2 linked regions of the Homo sapiens genome follow. The protein of the gene in region 1 interacts with the protein of each later gene in a biochemical or structural test. Each region holds a gene or a part of one and is shown on either strand. Other genes may lie near its edges.

Region 1 (3,801 bases):
GGCAAGAGCCACCATGCCTGGCAAAATTTACCATCTTAACTCTTTTTTTGAGGCTGGAGTGCAGTGGTGTGATCTCAGCTCACTTCAGCCTCCACCTCCCAGGTTCAAGTGATCCTCCCACCTCAGCCTCCTGGGTAGCTAGGATTACAGACACGTGCCACCATGTCTGGCTAATTTTTATATTTTTAGTAGAGACGGGGTTTCACCATCTTGGCCAAGCTGGTCTCAAATTCCTGACCTCAAGTGATCCACCTGCCTTAGCCTCTCAAAGTGCTGGGATTACAGGTGTGAGCCACTGCGCCCCCTCCATCTTAACCATTTTTAAGTGTACACTACAGTAGCGTTAACTACATTCACTTTTTTTTTTTTTTTTTTTTTTTTTTTTTTTGAGATAGGGTCTTACTCTGTCCCCTAGGCTGGAGCACAGTGGCACGTTTTCAGCTCACTGCAGGGCTCAGCTCACCTCCTGGGCTCAAGCAACCCTCCTACCTCAGGCTCCCGAGAAGCTGGGACTACAGGCACAGGCTACCTACCACATCCAGCAAATTTTTGTATTTCTAGTAGAGACGGGGTTTCGCCATATTGCCCAAGCTGGTCTCAAATTCCTCCTGGGCTCAGGTGACCCTCCCACCTTGGCCTCCCAAAGTCCTGGGATTATAAATGTGAGCTACCATGCCCGACCACTACATTCACATTGTTGTGAAACAGATCTCTAGATTTTTCATCTTCCCCAACAGAAACCCTGTCCCCATTGACCAACAGCTCCCCATTTCCCTTCCCCTAGCCCTGGCAGCCACCATTCCACTTTCTGTTGCAGTGTTTGTCTACTTTAGATACCTCGTGGAATTGTACAGTATTTGTCTTGCGACTGGCTAATTTCACTAATGTAATGTTCTCAAGGTTCTCTGGTGTAGCATGTGTCTGAATTTCTTTTTAAGGCTGAATAGTCCTAGAGTAACACAGGGGAGTAAAGAAAAAATAAAAGGCTGGATAATATTCTGTTGTGTGTATAAACCACATTCTGATCATCTTTTCATCCATCAGTGGACAGTCGGGTTGCTTCTGCTTCTTGGCTATTGTGAATACTGCTGCATTGAACATGGGTGTGCAAATATTTAAACAACTTTTTAAAAAATAACTTTGTTTCTGGCCGGGTGCAGTGGCTCACAGCTGTAATCCCAGCACTTTGGGAGGGCGAGATGGGTGGATCACTTGAGGTCAGGAGTTTTGCCAACATGGTGAAACCTGGTCTCTACTAAAAATACAAAAACAAAACAAAACAAAACATAACTGGGCGTGGTGGCACGTACCTGTAATCCTAGCTACTCAGGAGGCTGAGGCAGGAGAATTGCTTGAACCCAGGAGGCTGAGGTTGTAGTGAGCCGAGATCATGCCACTGCACTCCACGCCTAGGCAACAGAGTGAGACTCCGTCTCAAAAAAAAAAAAAAAACCCACTTTTTAAAAAAATAAGAGCTCATGGTACCTATTTGCATCCAGTACATCATTGAAGCTTGTAGAAAGCTGCTTAGTTAAAGTGAGGTTGGGTCACTTCGAAGTAGTCCTCCAGTTTTCTAAGCAAGTAAATTTTGGAGGTAGAAAGAAAATGTTCTCCTTTATCCTAGAGGCTCGACTGTGGTATGGTGGGCCCGGGTCATTGATTTGCTTTGTCCTTAATTGGTTGCTCCTACCTGACAGAAGTGAAATGGGTGTTCTGATGGGGGGTGGTGGGTGGTGACTTGAGAAGGTCCGGGAGCCTGAAGTGGGATGAATGAAGAGCACAGAGGCTCGTTGGGAGGCGAGGATAAGGGGGTGCAGAGGCCAGATCCCACAGGCCAGGAGAGGCTGGAACTAAGGGCTTGGGCTTGACACCAGTTACAGCAGGGGCCTAACACATTCTATTAGGTTGATGCAAAAGTAATTGCGGTTTTTGCCATTAATGTGTTAATTGCCATTAAATGTTAATTTGCACCAAATACCTGTCTGGACCCTCGGTGTCCTCCTTGTAAATGGTGTGGTCTGGGTGCCTCCATGTTGAAACATTCGATAAAAATGGATGATGTCCCCATCTCAAGTGCTGGGCTGTGTGTACATCTTCCCTCTGCCTCTCCCCACAGGCCTCCACCGCTATGTCTGGCTGGTTTACGAGCAGGACAGGCCGCTAAAGTGTGACGAGCCCATCCTCAGCAACCGATCTGGAGACCACCGTGGCAAATTCAAGGTGGCGTCCTTCCGTAAAAAGTATGAGCTCAGGGCCCCGGTGGCTGGCACGTGTTACCAGGCCGAGTGGGATGACTATGTGCCCAAACTGTACGAGCAGCTGTCTGGGAAGTAGGGGGTTAGCTTGGGGACCTGAACTGTCCTGGAGGCCCCAAGCCATGTTCCCCAGTTCAGTGTTGCATGTATAATAGATTTCTCCTCTTCCTGCCCCCCTTGGCATGGGTGAGACCTGACCAGTCAGATGGTAGTTGAGGGTGACTTTTCCTGCTGCCTGGCCTTTATAATTTTACTCACTCACTCTGATTTATGTTTTGATCAAATTTGAACTTCATTTTGGGGGGTATTTTGGTACTGTGATGGGGTCATCAAATTATTAATCTGAAAATAGCAACCCAGAATGTAAAAAAGAAAAAACTGGGGGGAAAAAGACCAGGTCTACAGTGATAGAGCAAAGCATCAAAGAATCTTTAAGGGAGGTTTAAAAAAAAAAAAAAAAAAAAAGATTGGTTGCCTCTGCCTTTGTGATCCTGAGTCCAGAATGGTACACAATGTGATTTTATGGTGATGTCACTCACCTAGACAACCAGAGGCTGGCATTGAGGCTAACCTCCAACACAGTGCATCTCAGATGCCTCAGTAGGCATCAGTATGTCACTCTGGTCCCTTTAAAGAGCAATCCTGGAAGAAGCAGGAGGGAGGGTGGCTTTGCTGTTGTTGGGACATGGCAATCTAGACCGGTAGCAGCGCTCGCTGACAGCTTGGGAGGAAACCTGAGATCTGTGTTTTTTAAATTGATCGTTCTTCATGGGGGTAAGAAAAGCTGGTCTGGAGTTGCTGAATGTTGCATTAATTGTGCTGTTTGCTTGTAGTTGAATAAAAATAGAAACCTGAATGAAGGAACTGAGTCCCCGGATGTTTTGTTCTATTGGGTATAGGTTTCATAAGTGTGAGAAGTCAAGTCTCAGGGTGAGTCGTCTCCGTGACCAGCAAGTAACAGCTGGGACTTGTTCTAGGGGCCATATGGAGGGTCTGTGCCTCTACATGTGCCATTAACCCACAGCAGGAGCAAACAGTTCAGATTTGAGGTTTCTAAAAAAAAAATCATAAAATGTGAGGCCGAGTCTTATTGCCCAAAAAGCACCTTTGCTTCAAGTGGTCCTTTTGACCCAAGAAGGATGTTCTAAAGAAGATGGCTGAAAACCTTCCCCCTTGGTGAAGTCTGGCGCGGACACCGTAACAATGCCTAAGAAGTAGCCTGCACTTCCCGTTCTGATGTGTTATCCACAGAGGCTCAGTACCAAAGAGGTGCGCAGGGTAGGAGGGTGAGAAGGTCACGGTCTCATGCCATCTGATGTACCGAAAGAAAGGAAAGGAGGTGTTTGAAGGTGCAAATCACTGTGATTTGGTCTCTGCGATGCAAAGGGGGGGGTCCTGAATCAGGCCTGACAGGTGCTAATGACTAGCCCTTCCCCATCTTTCACTGCAGTACTTTTTTCTCTGAAAAAACTTGGAAATGTTGCCTTGCTGGAAGCACATAAGGTAGATGTAAGTTTTCTTTTTTTCTTTTTTTAATTTTTTTGAG
Region 2 (3,820 bases), on another chromosome or scaffold:
ACGAGGATACCTGTCTCCAGATCTCAGTAAGGTACGGAGTAACTGTCCAAAAGCCATGAAGAGATTAATGGCAGAGTGCCTCAAAAAGAAAAGAGATGAGAGACCACTCTTTCCCCAAGTAAGTAAAAGCTTCATGCTATCCAAAAGAACAGACTAACATTCATAGACAGATTTCTGAGCACTTTTTTGGGCACACAGTGTGTATTTCATGAGTTTGGATTCTATGTGCAGACTCCAGACAAGAAAACACATTAAGATGGCTTCATGAGGGTTGAGCAGTGGCACACCTAGAAATTTTGGGTCCTAATACAAAATATTCAGAAAGACTTTGCATTTGTCCATCAGTTCTCAGACTTCTCAGTCTTTGAACTCTTTTACACATTTAAAAATTATCGAAGACCCCCCCCCCCACAAAGAGCTTTTGTTTATATAAGTTTTAATTCCTTATTAGAAATTAAAACTATTTTTTAAAATATTAATGAATTAAACATAGTAAACCAATATGTTAAATAATATTTAGAAAAAAACAGTTCTATTATCTAAGAGAAAAAAATTAGTGAGGAGTTGTATTGTTTTACTTTTTTTGCAAATCCCTTTGCAAAAAGAAGACAGCTGGATTCTCCGCTTTTGCACTCACATTGCAATATCTCACATCATGTCACCCCTAAAAACTCTACTTAACGCTTGTAAAATAATGACAGTAAAAAAGGCAAATGATATCTTATTGTTATTACAAAAATAGTTTTGACCTCGTGGATCCCCTGGTGGTCCACGGACCACATTTTGTGAACCACTGCTTTATTTCTTCTTGGTGGTAAACAGATTCAAGCTTTCCTTTAATACTGGGTCTTTTTGAGGGGCATTTCTGCCTGATGCAGAAAAAGGAAAAGGCAGTAAGGCATTTGTCAGCTCAGCCTGCCTTTACCTAATTCTTGATAACTCACTGCTTTTTTTTTTTTTTTTCCATATTGGAAGGATAAAGCCTTAAGTTAACAAATTTCAAAAAGAACTGTAACTAAGGCCAGGTGTCGTGGCTTACAAATCTCAACACTTTGGGAGGCCAAGGCAGGCAGATCAGTTGAGGTCAGGAGTTCGAGACCAGCCTGGCCAACATGGTGAAAACCGTCTCTACTAAAAATACAAAAATTAGCTGGGCATAGTGGCAGGAGCCTGTAATCCCAGCCACTCAGGAGGCTGAGACATGAGAATCGCTTGAACCCAGGAGGTGGAGATTGTAATGAGCTGAGATGACACCACTGCATTCCAGCCAGGGCAACAGAATGAGACTCTGTTTAAAACAAAACAAAACAAAAATATCTAAATACCTCAACTAGCTTACAGAGTTTAGCTGTAGTAGATATTATAATATAAATGCAATGTTTTCTGATACTTAGGGAGCTCCTGATAGCACTGGATAAATATGCCTTGATGAATCAGTACAGTTTCAAGTGGGAAGTGCTATTTCCCATAGTAACCCTGCTACCATAATTACTGGAGTGTTCATGTATGAACTCTTAGGCCTTTGAATGCCCAGTCCTAGCTGAGTAACTCAGACAGAAGTCAATGTTACAGGAATTAGATTCACTCATCCTTTATTTTTAAATCTAAAAAATGTTATTCTTCTCTAAAGAATGAAAGAAGATAAAATTGATGGTTTTAACAAGTCTGTCAGGGTGTTGCCTAAGAAAAGAAAGGGAAAGCTAAGTGGTTGGCTGGGTAGATATAAGTTTCATTTATCAGGTTTCAAAGTTACTGTTCCTTTGAGGAAGAGTTTTTATTTTTTCTTTTTATTTTTTTATTTGTTTCTCTAAGTCAGGAAACCTCTGGGTTGAGACTGTCCTGGTGAGAGACAAGTGCTGCTGAGCAGCTTCAGCATGACCCTGTCCCATGTTCTCTTTTCACGTCATGGTGCTCGGGTTCTTACTTAGAATGTTTATTGACATTAATAATGCAAAGTACATCCTTAGGCCCACTTTTTAAATGATATTAAAAGGGGCAAAATGCTTAGCTCCATACTTCTAAATATAACATTTCATTAATTACATGGTTTCAAAAACTGAAGTGCATATGTGAACTTTCCAGATTATTGGAGGCTATCCCTTTAAAGTGTTATTTTGAAATTTTTGTTACAGGATATCTTTTCACACCATACTGTTATATGCCACATAAATTTTAGATGGCTGAAGATCTATATGTTTTATAAAATATGAAATCATTTTTATAGTTTTGAGGTAGGAAAGGCTTTCTTAATAGACAAAATTCAGAAGGAAAAAATTAGCAGATGTGAGTACATTAAAAATTTTTAAACTTCTATATAGAAAAATAACATTGAAAGATAAAAAGAATAATTGTAGCATATATAACAAAAAGTAAATGTTTATAATATACAAAGGACTCCTCCAAATCAATAAGTAACAAACAATAGAAAATGGGCAAAGGGAATATGAACAGGTGATTCACATAATAAATACAAATGGTGAATGAACTTAGGAAAAGGTGTAAATATTTCCATGGCAGTCAGTAAAATGCAAAGACACAACAGTGAAATATATTTTAATTTCGCCTCTCAGGTTGGTAATATCCAGCACTGGGAACAATGTTGGGAAGTGAGGAGGAGCATTCTATGTAAAATTTTAAAGGTTTGGTGGAAGGCAGCATTTTGGAAGACCTTGGTAGAATCCATAAATTCAAAATACTTCTAAAAATCTGTGCTATGTAACCTATTTCATAAGTATTCAGATATATATAAGAATGTTTACTATAATAAGAAAAAGACATTAAGATTAAGTTAGTTTTGTATTGATGACATGGATATTGGTGAGAGAAAAAGAAAACAAGACAGAAAACAAAATGTAGTATGATACCTCATTTTTTTTTTTTATAGGCTGGGCCTGTTCTGTTGCCCAGGCTGGAGTGCAGTAATATGATCATAGCCCACTGCAGCCTCAAACTCCTGGGCTCAAGCGATCCTCTCACCTCAGCCTCCTAAGTAGCTGGGATTGCAGGTGCCTATCACCACACCCAGCTAATTTCTTGTGGTGGTGGTGGTGGTGGTTGTAGAGATAGATTCTCACTATGTTGCCCTGGCTGGTCTTGAACTCCTGGCCTCAAGCGATCCTCTCGCCTCAGCCTCCCAAAGTGCTGGGATTACAGGCGTGAGCCCCAGTGCCCAGCCTGATAACCACTTTAAAAGGTTAAACAGAGGCCAGGCACGGTGGCTCACGCCTGTAATCCCAGCACTTTGGGAGGCCGAGGCAGGCGGATCACCTGAGGTTGGGAGTTCGAAACCAGCCTGACCAACATGGAGAAACTCTGACTCTACTAAGAATACAAAATTAGCCAGGCGTGGTGGCACATGCCTGTAATCCCAGCTACTCGGGAGGCTGAGGCAGGAAAATCATTTGAACCCAGGAGGCGGAGGTTGCGGTGAGCCGAGATCGCACCATTGCACTCCAGCCTGGGCAACAAGAGTGAAATTCCATCTCCAAAAAAAAAAAGTGGTGTTCAGGTGGGCCTTGTTTTCATGTATGTATTTTTATACATAAAAAAAGGTACTGAAGAGGCCAGGCGCAGTGACTCACACCTGTAATCCCAGCACTTTGGGAGGCCAAGGTGGGTGGATCAGTTGAGGTTAGGAGTTCGAGACCAGCCTGGGCAAAATGGTGATACCCGTCTCTACTAAAAATACAAAATTATCCGGGCGTGGTGGCACACGCCTGTGATCCCAGCTACTCGGGAGGCTGAGGCAGGAGAATCGCTTGAACCTGGGAGGCGGAGGTTGCAGTGAGCTGAGATCGCGCCACTGCACTCCAGCCTGGAC

The links.
Region 2: the proteins of PEBP1 (region 1) and BRAF form a complex in vitro, tested with the Homo sapiens proteins (one study listed by BioGRID).

Annotation. Positions count from the first base shown.
Region 1 is NC_000012.12:118,142,470-118,146,270, forward strand, and holds the end of PEBP1 (phosphatidylethanolamine-binding protein 1), read left to right. Parts: intron 1-2,116; coding exon 2,117-2,334; 3' UTR 2,335-3,115; downstream 3,116-3,801.
Region 2 is NC_000007.14:140,736,110-140,739,929, reverse strand, and holds part of BRAF (serine/threonine-protein kinase B-raf), read left to right. Parts: coding exon 1-118; intron 119-3,820. UniProt on the Homo sapiens protein: Protein kinase involved in the transduction of mitogenic signals from the cell membrane to the nucleus. Phosphorylates MAP2K1, and thereby activates the MAP kinase signal transduction pathway. Phosphorylates PFKFB2.